2 separate regions of the Homo sapiens genome follow, and region 1 is linked to region 2. Evidence: fine-mapped expression QTL. A gene starts in region 2. The other region holds a variant in brackets. All regions are shown on one strand. Distances are between the middles of the regions. Region 1 overlaps TECR (trans-2,3-enoyl-CoA reductase). Region 2 holds the start of TECR (trans-2,3-enoyl-CoA reductase).

The links. PIP is the estimated chance that this variant, and not a neighbour inherited with it, causes the effect.
Region 1: its variant is fine-mapped to the expression of TECR in blood mononuclear cells (TOPMed, PIP above 0.99). The same link has a PIP of 0.9 or more in whole blood.

Annotation. Positions count from the first base shown.
Region 1 is chr19:14,557,259-14,566,733 of GRCh38, reverse strand. It overlaps TECR (trans-2,3-enoyl-CoA reductase), which reads right to left. Exons shown (of 13, transcript NM_138501.6): 2 at 4,159-4,209; 3 at 3,477-3,528; 4 at 3,032-3,076; 5 at 2,831-2,934; 6 at 2,637-2,752; 7 at 2,447-2,552; 8 at 1,876-1,948; 9 at 1,742-1,785; 10 at 1,611-1,668; 11 at 1,444-1,532; 12 at 1,071-1,116; 13 at 754-990. The coding sequence ends at 863. NDUFB7 (NADH:ubiquinone oxidoreductase subunit B7) reads left to right here. Exons shown (of 3, transcript NM_004146.6): 3 at 469-656. The coding sequence ends at 601. It also overlaps a transcript of DNAJB1 not described here. Among named protein-coding and RNA genes, the nearest start is that of NDUFB7, 10 kb to the left of the region's middle. RefSeq lists enhancers at 661-1,467, 3,084-3,891, 9,338-9,475 and a silencer at 2,045-2,194. The variant G/A (reference allele first, on the strand shown) is at 4,797.
Region 2 is chr19:14,524,332-14,533,806 of GRCh38, reverse strand. It overlaps TECR (trans-2,3-enoyl-CoA reductase), which reads right to left and starts at 4,213. Exons shown (of 13, transcript NM_138501.6): 1 at 4,096-4,213. The coding sequence starts at 4,110. It overlaps MIR639 (microRNA 639), which reads right to left and starts at 4,264; the gene lies at 4,167-4,264. It also overlaps a transcript of DNAJB1 not described here. RefSeq lists enhancers at 3,462-3,521, 3,885-4,469 and a silencer at 4,122-4,411.

The DNA of each region.
Region 1 (9,475 bases), 33 kb before region 2:
CGGCCCGCAACACCCCATACCCCCAGCCTTCCACACCCCTGGCCCACCCAAGCCCCCCACATGCCCAGCCCGCCCAAGCCCCCCTCCCACCCCCGCCAACACCCACAGCCTGCACCCCACCCAGGCCTGGCCCCTGGCAGGATGTGGCTCCAGAGGCCAGGGACCTGAACTGCCACTGAGGTTTCTAGCCGGGCCCCACCTTAGTCCCAGAGAGGGCTCTCTAGGGGCCTGTTTGATGGGGACAGGGCAGGTGGCTGAAGCCACCTAGGGGAGTGGCCAAGCCCAGGTTCCAGTGGGAAGCCCTGCCACCTGCGTGGGCAGACCCCAGACCCAAGCCACAGGCACTCGGACATGTCTTCTTCAGAGGCCTCCCCCACAGTGCTCTGGGACGGCCCCTCCGCTTCCCAGGGCTTGGGGGGCGTGTCCTGGCCAGGGACCCTGACAGCCCCTCTCGTGCTTTTCCCCCAGCTATGTGATGCGCATGAAGGAGTTTGAGCGGGAGCGGAGGCTGCTCCAGCGGAAGAAGCGGCGGGAGAAGAAGGCGGCAGAGTTGGCCAAAGGCCAGGGACCCGGGGAAGTGGACCCCAAGGTGGCCCTGTAGGGGGTGCACCCCCCACCCTATGGACCAGTCAAATAAAAGCCTTCAGGCCCCTCAACCAGAGTCCCCTCTTACTGCTCCGACGCGAGAGTGGGGAGAGAGTGAAGGGCAGTGTGGTGGTCCCCAACCCCGGAAAGAAACACACAGAGCCCGAGTCCGACTGGGGCAGGCGGGCTTTATTCCGGGTGCTGGAGAGCTGTGGGCCCCACTCCTCCCCCAGAATGCCACCGGGTTGAGGGGCTGAGCCTCAGCAGGGGTGAGCGCTCAGAGCAGGAAGGGGATGATGGGCATGCGCAGGGGCGGGTAGTCCCGGAACTCCTTCAGGTAGCTGCGGTGCTTGCCCTTGGCCCAGATGGTCATCTGGGTGAAGCCCACCAGGGAGAACAGGGCCACTGCAGGAAAGAACGGGCGTCAGGGAGGGGCTGCCGGCCCGGAGGGGCAGGGCCCCGCCGAGGGAGGGCGGCAGGCTCACCTGGGAGACACTGCGTCATGATGGCGAAACCGATCCAGGACCCCACCTGTGGGCAGGGGCGGAGAGTGAGCGTGGGCAGCCTCGCAACCCGTGTATGTGGCTGTCCTGGACTCAGCCAGCCACCTCCCGCCGCCCCTGCTTTCTGAGTCAGGGATGGGAACCCAATTCCAGCGGAGGCGGGGCTGTATACGGCGGAAGCCCAGCGGCACACGCCTCCCCGCCACCACAGCAGAGAGGCCGCGGTCTCCACCTCCCAATGCTCGCAGTGCAGGCGGCAAAAGCAGCTGCCCAGCCAGGCGCCCCATCCTAGGGGCTGGTCCCTCCACATGGGACCCCAAGTCCCAGGGCAGAGAGGGGTAAGGCAGCCCCTCACCTCGTAGGTGTAGTTGGGGCAGGACACCAGCAGGAAGAGCCACGTGAAGGGGTTCTTGGTGGGGTATGGGATCTTCCGCGTCTTGGACCCTGGCAGGCAGGACAGAAGGAGAAAGTCAGACCCCCTCACCCAGCCCAGCTGTCCCCCTGCCCCCAGCAGGCACTCACCAGCGGGCCGCAGGTCCCGCAGGGCCATGTGGATGGAGAAGTTGCCGAGCTGGCAGATCTGTCAGAGAAGCAGGATCAGCCTAGGGCCGCCCAGACTCCCCCGACCCCGTCCCCACACCCAGCCTCCTTACCACAAAGATGGCGAGCGCCAGTTTCACCTGCTGAGCTCCGTAGGCTGAAGAGGAAGCAGGGAGGGGAGCCCATGAGGGGAGGACCCGCTGGGTGGGGACCGTGGGGGAGGGAAGGATGGTCTGAGGCCACTTACTAGGGGGAGTGTAGAGAGGGTGATTGATGTAATAGGCCATCCACGCGGCGAAGCCCCAGTAGTAGGTGCAGTTCTGAAAGGGAGCAGGGCAGGGATGGGACTTGGGCCAGCACCGGACAAGGCAGATGCTGCCCATGTCTCATCCCGAGGGGCCTGGGAGCATGGTGGGAAAGGACAGGAGGGGCCTTGGGGCGGGGCTGGGGAGGATAGGCGGGGCCAAGGGGTGAGGCTAGGGCAGGGCTCTGTGAGGGCGTGGTGGACAGGAGGGGCCTAGGGGTGAAACTGGGGCGGGGCTCTGCAGGGGCGGGGCTGGGGGGATAGGCGGTGCCTAGGGGTGGGACTAGGGTGGATAGGCAGGCCTAGGGGCCCGACGGGGGCGGGGCTGGGGAGGACGGGCGGGGTCTAGAGGCTCTGCGAGGGCGGGGCTGGGGAGGTTAGGCGGGGCCTAGGGGTAGGGCTCTGCTGGGGCGTAGTGGCAGACAGGAAGGGCCTTGGGGTGGGGCTCGGTGGGGGCGGGGCGGGGTGGGGCAGAAAGGCGGGGCTTAGGGGTGAGGCGGGGACGGGCTCTCACCTTGAAGATGTTGCGCAAAGGCATAGTGCCATGGGAGAAGCGGTGCACGAAGAGCGTCTCCAGCAGGCGCTTGATGTAGTGGAATGAGTGACAGATGCAGGCGAGGCTGGTCGGGGGGAGCAGGCTCAGCTGGGGCTGGTCCGGCAGGTCTTCTGCCTTCCCCTACCCTCCTCCCACCTGCCCCACTTACTGCACCACTGTATGCCGACTGGACGTAAAGTCATATTTGTGGCCATAGATGAAGGGCACTCGGAAGTAGAAGAGCAGGTAGATGAAAAGGGGCCCCGCGTACTCTGTTAGGAAGACCTGAGAGTAGAGGGGGGCAAGATGAGTCACCCAACGTGGCTGACGGGAAAAGAGGCCGTGGGTAGGGTCAGGACTCACCGTCACCCAGCTGATCTGGGCCCCCAGGTCCCGGAAGTACAGTGTGGCCGTGGTGCCCACGGGCAGCTTCTGCAGAACATCCTCATCCTTCAGGGACTTGCCCTCTGCAGAGAGGCGGGCCAGGGCTCAGGGGCTACCCGGGCCTTCTCCCACTGCCACCCAGGAGCCCAGGGGGCGGGCCGAGTGGACAGCTGTACTCACTGGGGTCCAGGCGGAGGGACTGGCGGGCGGGGTACCACTGCGGATCTGCGGGGAGAACAGGGCAGTTACAGCCCACAGCCTGGCAGGGCTCAGCCGGTCCGCTGCCCAGCCACTGTGCCAGCTTCTCAGGGTTCCCAGGGTGCAAGGACCCCAGGACTCCACAGCTCCTCCCACCTGGGGGCAAACCCTCAGGCTTGTGCGGTTTCAGGACACAAGCCAGAAGAGCGCGGGCAGAAGCAGGATCTTGTCCTTCCCAGAGCCTAGCAAGGGCGTTCCTGCGGAGTGCCACGTGGAGGCGCCTGCCCCAGTCACGCCCCAGAAGCCTGGGCCACACTGGGGCATCTCTGCAGGCCCCTGGGAGAGGGGTGCAGGATGGGATCCCTCCCACCCTAAGGTCCCTGGTCAAAGGGGTTGCAGGGGCAGTGTGGCCGGGACTAGAACTCACGGGTCTTAGTGAAGAGGTTCTTGATCTCCGCAATGGTGGCGTGGGGCTCCACCTGGGGGAAGCACAGGCGCAGGGACGTCAGCTCTGCGGGGAGCCCAGACTCAGGATGGGGAGGTACTAAAGGGGATGGCAGGCTGGGGGTTGGGCTGTAGCTATGGGAAGGGGGAAGGGCTGGGGTCCAGGCCTCTGCCTGCAGTCAGGGAAGGACCACCGAGGGCCCTGCCAGTGCAGTGACAGCAGGGGTCTGGGGCTCCACTTTTACCCTCAGCCAGCAGGCCCCCAGCCCGGCTAGTGGCGGATTAAGCATGGGAAGGCAAGCCTGCTTCTCTGCCCCTCCTCTCCACTTCTCACCCATGACTCTCCCAGGAGCAAAGGCCCTCTGTCCTCCCCAGGGACAGCGCAAGCCCCTTCCCCCAGGCCCGGCCTCAGCAGGGGCAAGGCTCACTCCTCCACCGCCCTCCCAGGACCAAAATCCCCGCAGGGTCCACTGAGACTCCTGTGCCTCCATTTCCCCGCCACACCCAGGGGACATGGCTATCCACCCTACCCCAAGTGAGGGCATACCCCTCCATAGGGCAGGGGGTGGGGCACAAAGGGCCCCACTGGACAGCTCCTGGGCTATAAGGATTGGGGTCCCGGGCCCAGTGCCCTTGGCCCAGTGCAGCCCACGCCCCAGTCCTACCTTGTCCAAGAAACACAGCTTCTCCCTTGTCTTTGCGTCCAGAATCTCCACCTCGAAGAAGAGAACAGCCTTTTTAGGTTTCTTGGCCACCTTTGGGGGTGTGGGCCTGGGGAGCCCATTGAGGCCAGGGAGGAGGCCTGGGGTGGCCTCCCGGGCCAACAAGCTCAAGTTCAAGTCCATGCCGCCTGCCACCAGCCCTGCCACTCGGCTCTGCCCACGGTGGCCAGCAGCCCCAGCTGCCGGCCGTCAGCCCCCACCACCGACCTCCCCACGGGAAGCAGCCCTGGGCCGGGCAAGCGCGATCAAATTCTGCCGCGGTGCTGGAAAGGAGCCCGTGCCGGCCCTGGCACTGCCGACTTCTGTGCCAGATGTAACCCGAGTGGCAACCACAGCCACAGCCCAGCTAAATATAAAACCACCCCAGACTGCGCCCCCCAGGAGCCATGCCACAGACCTTCTCTGAGGGGGGCTTGGGAGTCTCCCCGGGGAGCCAGGCTGCCCTGAAAGCAGCTTTTGAGTGGTCACCTCAAAACCCTCAACGGCACCAGCACAGGGAAAGCCCCAGGGGCAGGCATGACAACACCTCCCAGCCCCCGCCCTGCACAGAGCCAGTGGCTAGAGGAGAGTGAGAGGCCAGC[G/A]GGCCGTGCAGGCCCCAGCCCGCAGCTCAGGCCTAGGGAGTTCACTGGGCTTGGAGAAATCCCAGCTATTTTGAGAATCCGCGAGACAGATCATCCATTTCCCCTTCTGAGCTGTAAGAGACACTTTGGATTATTTTCCTTGTGCATTTGTGTTACCAGGGAGGTGACAGATTCTGGAGTTATGGGTGCAGAGAGCCTCTCTCGAAGTGTGGAAAGGATCGGGGTGTGTGGAAGTTTTAGGCAACCGCCTCCAGCTTGGGCTGATGAGGTCTCCCCAACCTTCCTCCCCACCCACTTCTCACCTTATAGCCACCTGTGGGGCAGGCTTTCCACTGAGTCAGCCCAAACACTGCACCCTCACCCAGGACCTGCGCCCCACTAAAGCCCGGCGCTTCCTGCGTCCAAGAGCCAGGCCTGTGCCAGCCCCTGAGGTAGGAGTCTGGCCCAGCCCTCCCTGAGCCCCCAGGCCAGTGATGAACGATGGGGGTGCAGAGGGGCAGGGCTGGAGGGAGGCAGCCCCCGGGGATCTGACCCACCCTATGCAGGGGTCAGTGCAATCCTATTATACAGGGGTCGTGGCAAGCAGGCAGGCCTGATCCCAAGTCAGCCACCAGCCAGCAATTCTTGGGGGACCCTTCCTACCCACAGAAACCCAGCGGGGGCCCCCAGAGGCTGCCTGAGGAAAAGGAGCAGGACACAATGCTCAGAAACAAACCTCTGGGCTGGGGCCATCCCAGGGCAGGCCCACCCACCCAGAGCCCAGGGAGACCGGGCCACGGCAGCTAGGGCCCATCCTGAAGATGAGGGCACCACGGTCAAGCCAGAGAAGCTGGGTACCCCTCCTGCACATTCCCAACGACAGCGGGAGACAAGGGGGCTTGGTGGCCTGCACTCGGGAACCGTAACCAGCCCTGCCTTGTAGTCCCTGGGGGACCCCAGGCATGTCACCTCTCTCTAGGCCTCAGAAGGGGGCAGGTAGGAAGCAGACTACCTCCCAGGACTGTGACGGTCCCCTGAGACAATGCATGGGGTACACTAGGTGACCCCTGACAGATGGGAGGCACCCCATGGGATAGGAGGCATTGTTGCCCGTGGGTTTGGTTCAGATCCCCACTCCCCTGCTGGCCTGGCAGTCACCACAGCATGGGGGCCTATTTCCCCAGCCATGACACACTCGCCCCCACTTCCTGGACAGGAGGGTGGGAATGGGCCCAGCAGCCAGGAAATCCTGGCCCACGGGGCCTCCTGAGTCCCTGCTGTCAACTCCAGGCACTGCCTGGCCTTGTGGCCTCTAGGGGAAGGTTACTGAACTCCTCCAAGCCACAGCGATAACAAGGCCAAAGAGCTGGCACATGGAGGGGCCAGAAAAAAAGAGCTCGGTCACACCACGCAGGACGTTGGGCCCCACCAAGGGGATATGTAGGATAGGGACAGAGGACACGGGGCGGGATCCACGGGAAAGGGTTAGCACAGCAGGGCCCTGGGCGGGCACGGGGCCTGCCCTGTGGCTGCAGGTATATTAATAGTTCCTGGGCCCCAGGCAGGCAGTGCCCACATGCTTCCAAGCCCGTGTGGCCTGTAGGAAGGCAGCCTAGCGTCCACAGGGAGAGAAGGCCTCCGAGTTCCTGCTGAACCACTCAACAGCTTAAAATACAACCAGCCCCTCTCCCTGTCCAGCCAGCTGCTAGTGGGAGGGGTGAAATCGTACCCTGCTCCCCCCAACCTGGGCACCAAACCAGGGCCCAAGAGGGAGAGTACGGCCATCGGGGTCCCGGCTAGCTGCTGGGAGAGGACGCCGGGCTGCGGCAGGAGGGGGTAGCGAGAGAGGGGCCACGCTCACAGCTGCAGCAGTGGTGCCCAGGCCAGCCTGAGGCCCAAGGAGAGGAGACGCCCAAACCTGCAAGGAGGTAAGCCCGGGCTGCAAGGCAGCACCTAGGGGCCCCTACAGACAAGAAATGCCCAAGGCTAGGGCCACCTGGGCAGGATGAGTCCTCAGTGGGACGGCCGTCCGTCTCCCATTTCCTGCCCCAAATCCCCAGCTCGTCGGCCATCTCCTCCTAGAGAGAGGACTGAAAGGCTCTGGGGGGAGCAGGAGACCTCTCCATACTATTCTTGCAATTCCCTGTGTCTCTATAATTTTTTTTTTTTTTTGAGACAGAGTCTCACTCTGTCGCCCAGGTTGGAGTGCAGCAGTGCGATCTTGACTCACTGCAACCTCCGCCCCCCAGGTTCAAACGATTCTCCTGCCTCAGCCTCCAGAGTAGCTGGGATTACAGGCACACACCACCACATCCAGCTAATTTTTTGTATTTTAGGAGAGATGGGGTTTCACCATGTTGCCCAGGCTGGTCTCGAACTCCTGAGCTCAGGCAATCCACCACCTCGGCCTCCCAAAGTGCTAGGATTATAGGCGTGAGCCACCTGGCCCGGCCTATAATTATTTCTAAGTAAGAAAGTTAAATAAGATATTCCAGGTGGGGTAAAAGAAATAAGTTACGCTAGGAAACAAGCCAGACACAAAGGTCCCATATCTATGCAAAATACCCAGAGCAGACAGACAGAAAAGCAAATTGGAGGGGCCAGGGGCTGGGCGGGGGGAATGGGGAGTGGCTGCTGCTGGGTACCCGGTCTCCTTTCAGAGTGAGGAAAATGTTCTGGGACGAGACAGAGGTGGAGGCTGCACAATGATGCACGTGCACTCAATGCCACTGTTCACTTTTAAATGGTTAGTTTCATGTTACATGAATTTCACCTCAATAAATTATTGTTTAAAGGGGTGAGGGGTAACAAACAGGCCCCACATACCCATCAAAATAAAAACAGTCGGGTGGGAGGAGCAGGAGAGGTTCCCCACCCCTCAGAGGGAGGGCCTAATGTGAGACCTCATCGAGGGCTCCGCGCCCCACACCCCACTGCCACCCCAATCTCTGCTCTGTGCCTGCCACACACACACACGCCTGCCCAGGCCTGAGGCCAACAGGGGGCAGGGGCTCCCAGGGGAAGCCCAGGGCTGCAGAGGGTACAGGCAGCTGCTGAACAGAGCCCCAGGCAGGGGATCCTGAGCACAGACGGGGAGGTGGCAGGCTCTGGCCCCATCTCCAGGAGAAGCGGTGAGGCAGGGAGGACAGACAGGACCTTCTGAGGAAGCCCACGGAGCCACTCGGAGGGGCTGGGAGGGGCTGAGATGCTCTGGGTGGATGAAGGGATACCTGTGGGAGGGGGGCTACTGGTGTCAGCGAGGTCCCAGCACTGGCCACGGGCAAGGGGTGAGACCACATAGCCTCAGGCACGACGGGCAGGGAGAGGGCAGGAACGGGCAGACAGGCAGGCACTCTGGCCTGGGGCACAGGCTGGTGGCTCTGCCGGCCTGTGGCTCTGTGATGACAGTTCCACTAGCCTGAGAGGAATTCTCACCAGGAGGCCCAAGATTCCCGGGGCCCAGCCAACAGCAACTCGTCGCAGCACGAGGTCAGGGCAGAGCCAAGAGCCAGGACACACGGTGCGGCGTGAAGCGCACCCTGCAAGAGGGAGCAGGGGCGAGGTTTGTGCCTCCCAAGCCCAGAGGGGAGTGCCGCAAGCAACAGAGCCCGTCTTCACTGTCTTTGTGGTCATGAAGATATTACTAATGGGGGCAGGAGGAGTGAAAAGGGGGGCTCTCGTTGTCTAAGCACTTGTCACAGCTCCTGGGAACCCGCCCGCCTGGTGGGTGAACAACCCAGAGAAGCAGACCTGCCCATTTCCTGGCTGTGTGGCCCTGGGCAAGTTACCCAACCTCTCTGAACTTCCATCTACTCATGGCAAAGTGGGCTGTCCCCAGCTGCCATCTGACAGGGTTACCGTAATCATCCCCAGTTTAGGATAAATCTTATTAAGGATAAATATAGGCCGGGCGTGGTGGCTCACGCCTGTAATGCCAGCACTTTGGGAGGCCGAGGCGGGCGAATCACGAGGTCAGGAGATCGAGACCATCCTGGCTAACACGGTGAAACCCCATCTCTACTAAAAATACAAAAAATTAGCCGGGTGCGGTGGTGGGTGCCTGTAGTCCCAGCTACTCGGGAGGCTGAGGCAGGAGAATGGCGCGAACCCGGGAGGCAGAGCTTGCAGTGAACCGAGATCGCGCCACTGCACTCCAGCCTGGGCGACAGAGCAAGACTCCATCTCAAAAAAAAAGAATAAATATGATGACCGGGCACGGTGGCTCATGCCTGTAATCCTAGCACTTTGGGAGGCCAAGGTGGGCGGGTTACCTGAGGTCAGGAGTTCAAGACCAGCCTGGACAACATGGCGAAACCCCGTCTCTACCAAAGATACAAAAATTAGCCAGGCGTGGTGGTGCATGCCTGTAATCCCAGCTACTCAGGAGGCTGTGGCAGGAGAATTGCTTGAACCCAGGAGGAGGAGGTTGCAGTGAGCTGATATCGCACCACTGCACTCCAGCCTGGGAGACAGAGCAAGACTCCATCTCAAAATTTAAAAAAAGAATAAATATGATTAGGCGGGGCACTATGGCTCACACCTGTAATCCCAGCACTTTGGGAGGCCGAAGCAGGCAGATCACCTGAGGCCAGGAGTTCGAGACCAGCCTGCCCAACATGGTGAAACCCCGTCTCTAATAAAAATACAAAAATTAGCCAGGCATGGTGGTGTGTGCCTGTAATCCCAGCTACTCAGGAGGT
Region 2 (9,475 bases):
TAAGAAGACGGCTTCAGCCAAGGCCTGGAGGTGACCCGTTCTAGAGAGAGGCTTCACCTCAATTAGGCCACAGAGTGGAAAACTTTTCCTCTCAGATCAGATGAGATTTGGCAGTGATATGAGGCTACTATGGAAACAGCCACCGATCTCCACTACTGCTGGGATCCCAACTGCCATGATAACAGTCCTCAACCAGACATTAATTTGTTGCGTGACAGTCAGCACGTCCTGCACCCCTCTGGGCATTACCTCTATCAGTTGTAAACTGCACTTCATAATCTCCAAGGTCTCTCCAGGGGCCAACCTTTCAGTGGACAACAGACTGCTTGAGGGTGGGAAGATGGATTTAGTCCCAAGCAGAAATAGATTTTTTTCTTTTTTTTTTTGAGACAGAGTCTCGTTCTTGTCACCCAGGCTGGAGTGCAGTGGTGCGATCTCAGCTCACTGCAACCTCCACCTCCCAGGTTGAAGTGATTCTCCTGCCTCAGCCTCCCAAGTACCTGGGATTTCAGGCGTGCGCCACCACACCCAGCTAATTTTTTATTTTTTGTAGAGACGGAGTTTCATCATGTTGGCCAGGCTGGTCTCAAACTCCTGACCTCACATGATTTGCCCACCTTGGTGTCCCAAAGTGCTGGGATTACAGGCATGAGCCACTGTGCCCAGCTGAAATATATCCTTTATTTATTTTTTTTAAAACAGAGTCTCGCTCTGTCACCCAGGCTGGAGTACAGTGGCGTGATCTCAGCTCATGGCAACTCCGCCTCCCAGCTTCAAGTGATTCTCATTCCTCAGCCTCGAAGCCAGTAGCTGGGACTACAAGCACGTGCCACCATACCCAGCTAATTTTTTTGTTTTTAGTAGAGACGAGGTTTCACCATGTTGACCAGGCTGGTCTCGAACTCCTGACTTCAAGTGATTCACCCGTCTCAGCCTCCCAAAGTGCTGGGATTACAGGCATGAGCCACCTCGCCCGGCCAGAAATATATTCTTTGATGTAGACAAACCTTTTCTCAAATTGCTTGTTAAGTGTGAGTGAAAGCATCCTTTCTATTTTTACTGACCTACAATACACACATGCAGTTAAACTAATCTGCTTGCTATGCAATCCGCTGGGCCGGGAAACAACTGCTTCTCCCACCCAGAAGCCCTGTAGCTATCGCCTCTATGGGTACTTGGCAAAGGTTGGCAGAGAATAACAAACAACACAGCAAAATAACAATTTATTTTTTCCTTCAAGGTCACTTTGAACAGTGAGTTTGAAGCTTCCCTTTTTTTTTTTTTTTTTTTTTTTGAGACAGACTCTCGCTCTGTCATCCAGGCTGGAGTACAGTGGCATGATCTCAGCTCACTGCAACCTCTGCCTCCAAGTAGCTGAGATTACAGGCGTGTGCCACAACACTCGGCTCACTTTTGTATTTTTAGTAGAGACAAGGTTTCTCCATGTTAGCCAGGCTGGTCTTGAACTCCTCACCTCAAGCGATCCGGCCACCTCAGCCTACCAAAGTGCTGGGATTACAGGCGTGAGCCACCATGCCTGGCCAAAGCTCCCCCTTCTTTCTGGGAGAGAAAAGGATTAAGTACGGTGGAGCATATTCTCCAGTCCAAGTCTTGGGCCTCAGGCTGTGCCCAGCTTCCTGGAACAAAAGCACGCACCCCCAGGGTGCTCAGAGGCCTACTTTATCTGACTGTTAACTAGCAAAACTAAACCAACTACATTTGCAAAATGCCATATGGATGTTCCAAACTGCATGTTTCAAGCTGGACATGGTAGCTTTTTTTTTTTTTTTTTTTTTTCTTCAAACAGGGTCTCTGTTGCCCAGGCTGGAGTGCAGTGGCCTGATTTTTGGGCTCACTGCAGCCTCAACCTCCTGGGCTCAAGCCATCCTCCTGCTTCAGCCTCCCGAGTAGCTGAGACTACAGTAGTGGGACTACAGGTTTAGATATAGAGTTTGAGAGGGGAATCCACATCAGAACTTCATTCTAGAATGAAAACTTAAATGACAGAGATTATTGAATACAAACCTCCTCATTCTTGATACCATGTCAAAAATTACAGGATTTGTGGGTTAAAGGCTTCTAAGGGGCTAGGCACCGTGGCTCATGCCTGTAATCCCAGCACTCTGGGAGGCCAAGGTGGGTGGATCACCTGAGGTCGGGAGTTCGAGACCAGCCTGACCAACATGGAGAAACCCTGTCTCTACTAAAAATACAAAATTAGCCGGGCATGGTGGCTCATGACTGTAATTCCGGCTACTCAGGAGGCTGGGGCAGGAGAATCACTTGAACCCGGGAGGTGGAGGTTGCGGTGAGCCAAGATCACGCCATTGCACTCCAGCGTACTCAACAAGAGCGAAACTCCGTCTCAAAAAAAGGCTTCAAAGGATTGTGGGTAAATTTCCAAAAATAGTAGCAATAAAGGGGGCAGGAGGCAGAGGTAGTAATATTCAACTTGTCAATAAAAACAAACAGCCGGGCGCACTAGCTCACACCTGTAATCCCAGTACTTTGGGAGGCCGAGGAGGGCAAATCACTTGAGGTCAAGAGTTTGAGGCCAGCCTGGTCAACATGGTGAAACCCCCATCTCTACTAAAAATACAAAAAATTAGCCGGGCATGGTGGCGGTCACCTGTAATCCCAGCTATTCAGGAGGCTGAGGCAGGAGAATCGCTTAAACCCAGGAGGCGGAGTTTGCAGTAGGCCGAGATCGCGCCATTGCACTCCAGCCCGGGCAATAAGACCGAAACTCTGTCTCCAAAAGAAAAAAAAAATCCTTCTACGTATCCAAGGTACCTAGAGTAGTCAATTCATTAAGACGGAATGGTGGCTGAGTAGAATGGTGGCTGCCAGAGGTGGAGGTGGAGAGGAATGGGGAGTTAGTATTTAACGTCTACAGCTTCTGTTTTCCAAGATGCAAAGAGTTCTGGAGATGGGTGGTGGTGATGGTTGCACAACAATGTGAATGTTCTTAATGCCACTGAACTGCACACTTAAAAATAGTCAAGATGGTAAATTTTATGTGTATTTTGCCAGAATTTTTTAAATTGGAGGGGAAGTGAGAAACAAGAAATCGCTCGACCTGCTATTTTTCATTTGAGGACCAGCATGGCATAGTGGCTAGGAACTAAGACCTTGGCGTCCTGAGTTCCCCTATCTGTTTTGCATTTACTAACTAGGGGCCTTTGAACAAGTCACTTTATATCTCTGAGACTTTATTCATCCTTACAAACAGGAATAATAATAGTTCTTATACAAGGTAACAGAATCTCACCAGCACAAGAGTAAGCACTTGCTAAATTGTTATTTTGAATTTTAATAACAAATTTTATTATTTGATGATAGTTACTTAAAAGTCAGCAATAATTCAGGGATAATTGGTTGAATTATTAATATTATATTATCACCTAGGGCGATAAGCACATCAGAAGACTTCGTTTTAAGGGAAAAAGAGACCCAAGTTAGGAGTCAGAAGACTTGGGCTTCAAGAGTGGCTGTGGGTGGGTATAAGATTTCTCCTTGGTGACACCCAAGGGTTGACGTAGATGACCTCTTTGATAACCAGAAAGCAAGATCAGCTTCGCTGCTCTGCGAAAGCCAGCCGTGGAGCTGCACCTCCCTCACCGCCTAAGTCTCCCGGGAACGTCCCGGGCGAGGGAAGGGGTCCAAAGGTCGTACACAAGAATACTGATAGCAAAGCCCCTTCCTACGCTGGTGACGGCGGCGTGGCGCAAGATTTGTGCAAGACTCCCTCGGATTGGGAGCAAGGGTCCCGCACCTTCGTGGCTCCCATGACAAAGTCTGCAACTCAGCCCGCTGGGGGAGCTGCAAGGAACCTGCAAGCGTCCCAGCCCCTGCAGAGACCCCCAAGAAAAAGTACCCCCAAAACAGCCTGGGTTGCAGATTTATAAATACTTCCTGCGCACATGCGCATTGGAATTTACGAGTGGCCCGGGGCGCAACGCTTGCCCACTGCGCCTGCGCCGTCTGGCTCTTCCTTCGGGGCACAGGACCAGAAAGTGGGGTCCCGTGGTCCCGCAAAGAAGGAAAAAGAATGGGTCAGCAGTGGCCACACGGCCCCTGTTTCTCGCTTCTTACCTCGTAATGCTTCATGGCTCCCTCCCACGGCGGCTACTGCTCCGCGGCTGCTGCTGCCTAACTGCGCGGCACAGCACAGGCTCCCTACAGCGCTCGCAACCGCAGCGATAGACTAAACGCGGCTCTGCGTCCGCCCCGCCCCTCCAGGCCGCGCGCGCCCCGTCGGCCAATCAGGGCACGAGGCGCCCACGTTCGCCCCTGCTCCTTGGGGCCGGTCCGAACCAAGACTAGGACTAGCACCAGGGGATTGACCAATCAACTTGCGAGACCAATCGAAGGGGGCGGAACGCCTGTAGGAGGGGCTAAAGAGAAGGGGCTTGACCATCCACCAATCCAAAGGAGGTCTCTGCCCCGCGCGTCCCTTTGCCACGCCCCCTGATGGCGTCGCTGTGGAAACCAAGGTAAGCGACGGTTAGGCCAGACGCGGGGGCGGGGTAAGAAGTTGAGTGACAGGCAAGGCAGCATCCACATGACAGGCGGCGCCGAAGGGGTAAATTCTGAGGTGGGCGGCCCCCGGGGTACACCGGGAACAGCAGGAGAGGGCTAGGGGCTGGGGTCGCGGGCTGCGGAGTCTGGTTGGCGAGGAGGTCACTATGGGAGGAGACTCTTGAGTGGGAGGGAAGGAAAGGCGAAACGGAGTCGCGAAAAGCTCCCCATTTGGGAACCCCCAACCTGCAAGAACCTTGAGCCCCAGCCCCATTCTGGGGTGGCTTCACTGCCGTTTTTAATGAAAGCCCCGCCCCACTTTGTTTTTCTGTTTTGTTTTGTTTTTGAAACAATCTCGTTCTGTCCCCCAGCTGGAGTGCAGTGGCGCAATGACGGCTCACGCAACCTCCGCCTCCCGGGTTCAAGCGATTCTCATGCCTCAGCCTCCCAAGTAGATGAGATTACAGGCACCCGCCACCACGCCCGACTAATTTTTGTATTTTTTTTAGTAGAGACGGGGTTTCCCCATGGTTGGCCAGGCTGGTCTTGAACTCCTGACCTCAGGTGATCCTCCCGCCTCAGCCTCCCAAAGTGCTAGGATTACAGGCCTGAGCCACCCCGCCCGGCCCCCCTCCACACTTTGCTCCGCCCTATGGACAGGGGAACTACATTGGTCTCTGCCTGACGTCCAGAATCGTGTCTAGTGGCTCCAATGGGGCCACTGAGCCCTTGAAATGGGGCTGGTCCAGGCCGGGAACGATGGCTCACACCTGTAATCCTAGCACCTTGGGAGGCCGAGGGGGGCAGATCACGAGGTGAGGAGTTCGAGACCAGCCTGGCAGATATGGTGAAACCTCATCGCTACTAAAAATACAAAAATTAGCCGGGCGTGGTGGTACACACCTGTAGTCCCAGCTAATCAGGAGGCTGAGGCAGAAGAATTGCTTGAACCCGGGAGGCGGAGGTTGCAGTGAGCCAAGATCTCGCCACTACACTCCAGCCTGAGCAACAGACCGTCTCAAAAAAAAAAAAAGAAAAAAGAAAAAGAAATGGGACTGGTCCAAATTGAGATGTGCTGTAAATGAAAAACACATAAATTTCTGGCCAGGCACGGTGGCTCACACCTGTAATCCCAGCACTTCGGGAGGCCAAGACAGGCAGATCACATGAGGTCAGGAATTCAAGACCAGCCTGGACAACGTGGTGAAACCCTGTCTCTACTAAAAATACAAAAATTAGCCAGGTGTAATGGTGGGCACCTGTAATCCCAGCTACTAGGGAGGCTGAGAATCGCTTGAACCCGGGAGGTGGAGGTTGCAGTGAGCCAAGATCGCACCACTGCACTCCAGCCTGGGCGACAGAGTGAGATTCTGTCTCAAAAAAAAAAGAAAAAAAAAGAAAAGACTTTTGACAGACAAAGGAACAGGCAGTACCTGGCACACTTCTTCACCTCCTCTCCTTACTCTTGTTTCCAGATCCTGCCCCTGAGCTTTCATGAGCTGTTGAACCATCTGGAATTCACAGGCCTGTCATGAGAGACACGATGAGAAGTCCTTAAAGGTAGATCACTGATTCACAGGGGAGCAGGCGGAGGCAAGGGTGAGTCAGTGCTTGGAACTCAGTCATCCAGATTTGGCTCTGGAAACTTCTGAAGCTGTAGCCTTTGGGGATCCCTGACTGCGAGTACAGGAAGCCAACGCTATGTGGTCTTCTGGAAACTCATTATCTTTTTCACTGGTGCTATCTGGGAAAAACAGATGAAAACCTGAAGGTGTTCTGTATGTGTGCTTTCAAAAGCAAGGATCTGGCCGGACGCAGTGGCTCAGGCCTGTAATCCCAGCACTTTGGGAGGCCGAGGCAGGAGGATCACCTGAGGTCAGGAGTTTGAGACCAGCTTGGCCAACATGGCGAAACCATCTCTACTAAAAGTACAAAAATTATCTGGGTGTGGTGGTGGGCACCTGTAATCACAGCTACTCAAGTAGCTGAGGCAGAAGAATCAGTTGAACCCAGGAGGCAGAGGTTGCAGTGAGCAGAGATCACACCACTGCACTCCAGCCTGGGTGACAAGAATGAAACTCCGTCTCAAAAAAAAAAAAAAAAAAAAAAAAAAAAAAAAAGCAGAGATATTTTTCTGGTGGCAGTTTGAGTTTTGAGGCCTTCTGTGTCATGACAGGCCTCACTCCCTGCCCTTCTTGGGTGCTGGGGGAGAGTATTTGCTTCCAGGCCACAAGTTAATTTTTTAGTAGAGATGGGATCTCATTATGTTGCCCAGGCTGCTCTGGAACTCCTGGCCTCAAGTGATCCTCCCTCCTCGGCCTCCCAAAGCGCTGGGATTACAGGCATGAGCCATCCCACTCGGCCTGAGACCACAGTTAAAATCCTATCAGATTGAGTTACCTGAGGTACTTGATTGTGAGGGGCCATGGGGATAGGGTTGAAACCCTAAGACCCATCCATGTGTTGCTCCTTCACCAGTTATGCAAATTTTCAACTTATTTAATGTGATCTGAAGAGGTGAGTCTTCCATCTCTGGGTTGCAGTTAGATAGGGCATGATGGTGTACAAGTAGGTGTCATTTTGAAGAGATTCCATACATATTCCCATAAACTCAGAACGTTTTGGAAATTCCCTTTTGAGACTGCTTTTCTGAGCCCCACACTTACTCAACAGGCACCAAATCATCCTCATGCACCTACTATGCTGCGTGTCAACCGGAACATACAAATAATTTCCACCCCCTCCTCACCCATAAGAAGCTGGCAGAAAGGCAAGATCCAGCCTCCAAAGTAGAATTCCTCTTTGTTTTTGAGGGGTGTTGCAGGCTTGAGGAACCCCTTGTTTGCCCATCTGGCTTCCGGTAACCAGGCTGTCAGCAGAAATGAAACCCACCCTTGGAATGAAGACTGGCCACTTTGTTCAAGCCACTGAGGACACTGTACTGTGGCCCCCTGACAGTGCCTGTCTGTAGGGACAGCTAGATCCTGCTGGTCCCTTCACAGTCCCAGCAGTGGCTGATTCACAATGGTGACTGGTAGATCTGTTGGGTCGTTGTTGAGCTGATGGTAACTAGCTCCTTTATTAAAGTAATTTCCAAGGGAGAAACTGCAAGAGACGGCCTAAGCTGCGGCAGCTTCCAAGGATGAGCTTTTCTGGACCTCAGGTTTGGGGGGAACCCGAGACCATTTGAATGCCAGAGATGTGATGTGTTTGGTAATGTCGTGTCTCACAAGCTCCTTTTGTATTTCCCATGGGCAGATCAGGTCGGATCTTGACTTTTTCCAGAACCTGGCTTGGCTGGTTTGGGTTGTGTATGAATGAGCTGGCTCGCTGGGTGTGTGAGGGGAGGTGAAGCTGGGACTAGACAAGCCAGGGCTCGTTAGCAAGTTTCTGCTGTGTCAGGAATCCCAGAGAGAGGTTTCCCAAGCCCTATCCTGTCTTGCCTGGGTTGTTTGGTTTTTCTCCTTCTTTTTTTTTTTTTCATTGAAGTGTAATTGACATGTAGTAAAATTCACCCATTTTAGTGTACAGCTCTGAACACATACGGTCATGCAACCACCACTACAATCAAGATACAGAGCATTTACACCAACCCAAAAAATTCTCCAAACTACTCCATTTGTTGCAGGTCCCAGCCCCTGGCAAGCATTCATCTGCTTTCTGTCCTGATACTTTTGCCTTTTCCAGAAGGTTGAGTGAAATGGAATCATGCAGCCTTTTGAGCCTGGCTTCTTTCACCCACATAATGCATATGAGGTTCATCTGTAATGTTGTTTTTTTGTATCCGTAGCTCATTCCTTTTTATAGCTGAATAGTATTCCATTGTGTGGATGGATCCCATTTGTTTATCCATTCATCCATTGAAGGACAGTTAGGGTTTAACTGCTGTTGGTAATAACTAATAAAGCCTCAGCAAACATTCGCTCATGAGACTCCATCTCAAAAAAAAAAACAAAAAAAGTAGATTTTACCCTGCTGGTGTTGCTATGTTGATGAAATTGAGAGGAGCCAGGAAATGAACATTATAATAGTATCTTTTTTATTTTTATTTTTGAGATGGAGTCTCGCTCTGTCACCCAGGCTGGAGTGCAGTGGCGCAATCTCGGCTCACTGCAACCTCCACCTTCTGGGTTCAAGCGATTCTCCTGCATCAGCCTCCCGAATAGCTGGGTTACAGGTGTGCACCACCATGCCCAGCTAATTTTTGTGTTTTTAGTACAGACGGAATTTCACCATGTTGGTCAGGATGGTCTCCATCTCTTGACCTTGTGATCCTCCCGCCTCGGCCTCCCAAAGTGCTGGGATTACAGGCATGAGCCACCGCACCCAGCCATGAATTTTTATATATGAACAAAGGTTTTCATTTCACATGGGTATCCCACTGGGAGTGGGATTGTTGGCTCATATGGCTATAGCGCTTTTTGAAGGTCTTTTTTTTTTGAGAACGAGTCTCGCTCTGTTGTCCAGGCTGGAGTGCAGTGGCACCATCTCGGCTCATTGCAACCTCCACCTCCTAGGTTCAAGTGATTCTCCTGCCTCAGCCTCCCAAATAGCTGGGATTACAGGTGCACGCCACCATGCCTGACTAATTTTTGCATTTTTAATAGAGATGGGGTTTCACCATGTTGGCCAGGCTGGTCTCGAACTCCTGACTTCAAGGGATCCACCTGCCTCAGCCTCCCAAAGTGCTGAGATTACAGGCATGAGCCACCGCACCCAGCCTTGAAGATCTTTTCCAAATTTATTTGGATTTTTATTTATTTTTGAGACAGGGTCTCACTGTCTCTCAGGCTAGTGTGCAGTGGCACACTCATAGCTCACTGCAGCTTGGAATTCCTGAGCTCAAGTGATCCTCCCACCTCAGCCTCCCAAGTAGCTGGCACGTGCCACCATGCCCAGCTTATTTCTTTGTCATTCTTTGCAGATATGGGGTCTCACTATGTGGGCCAGGCTG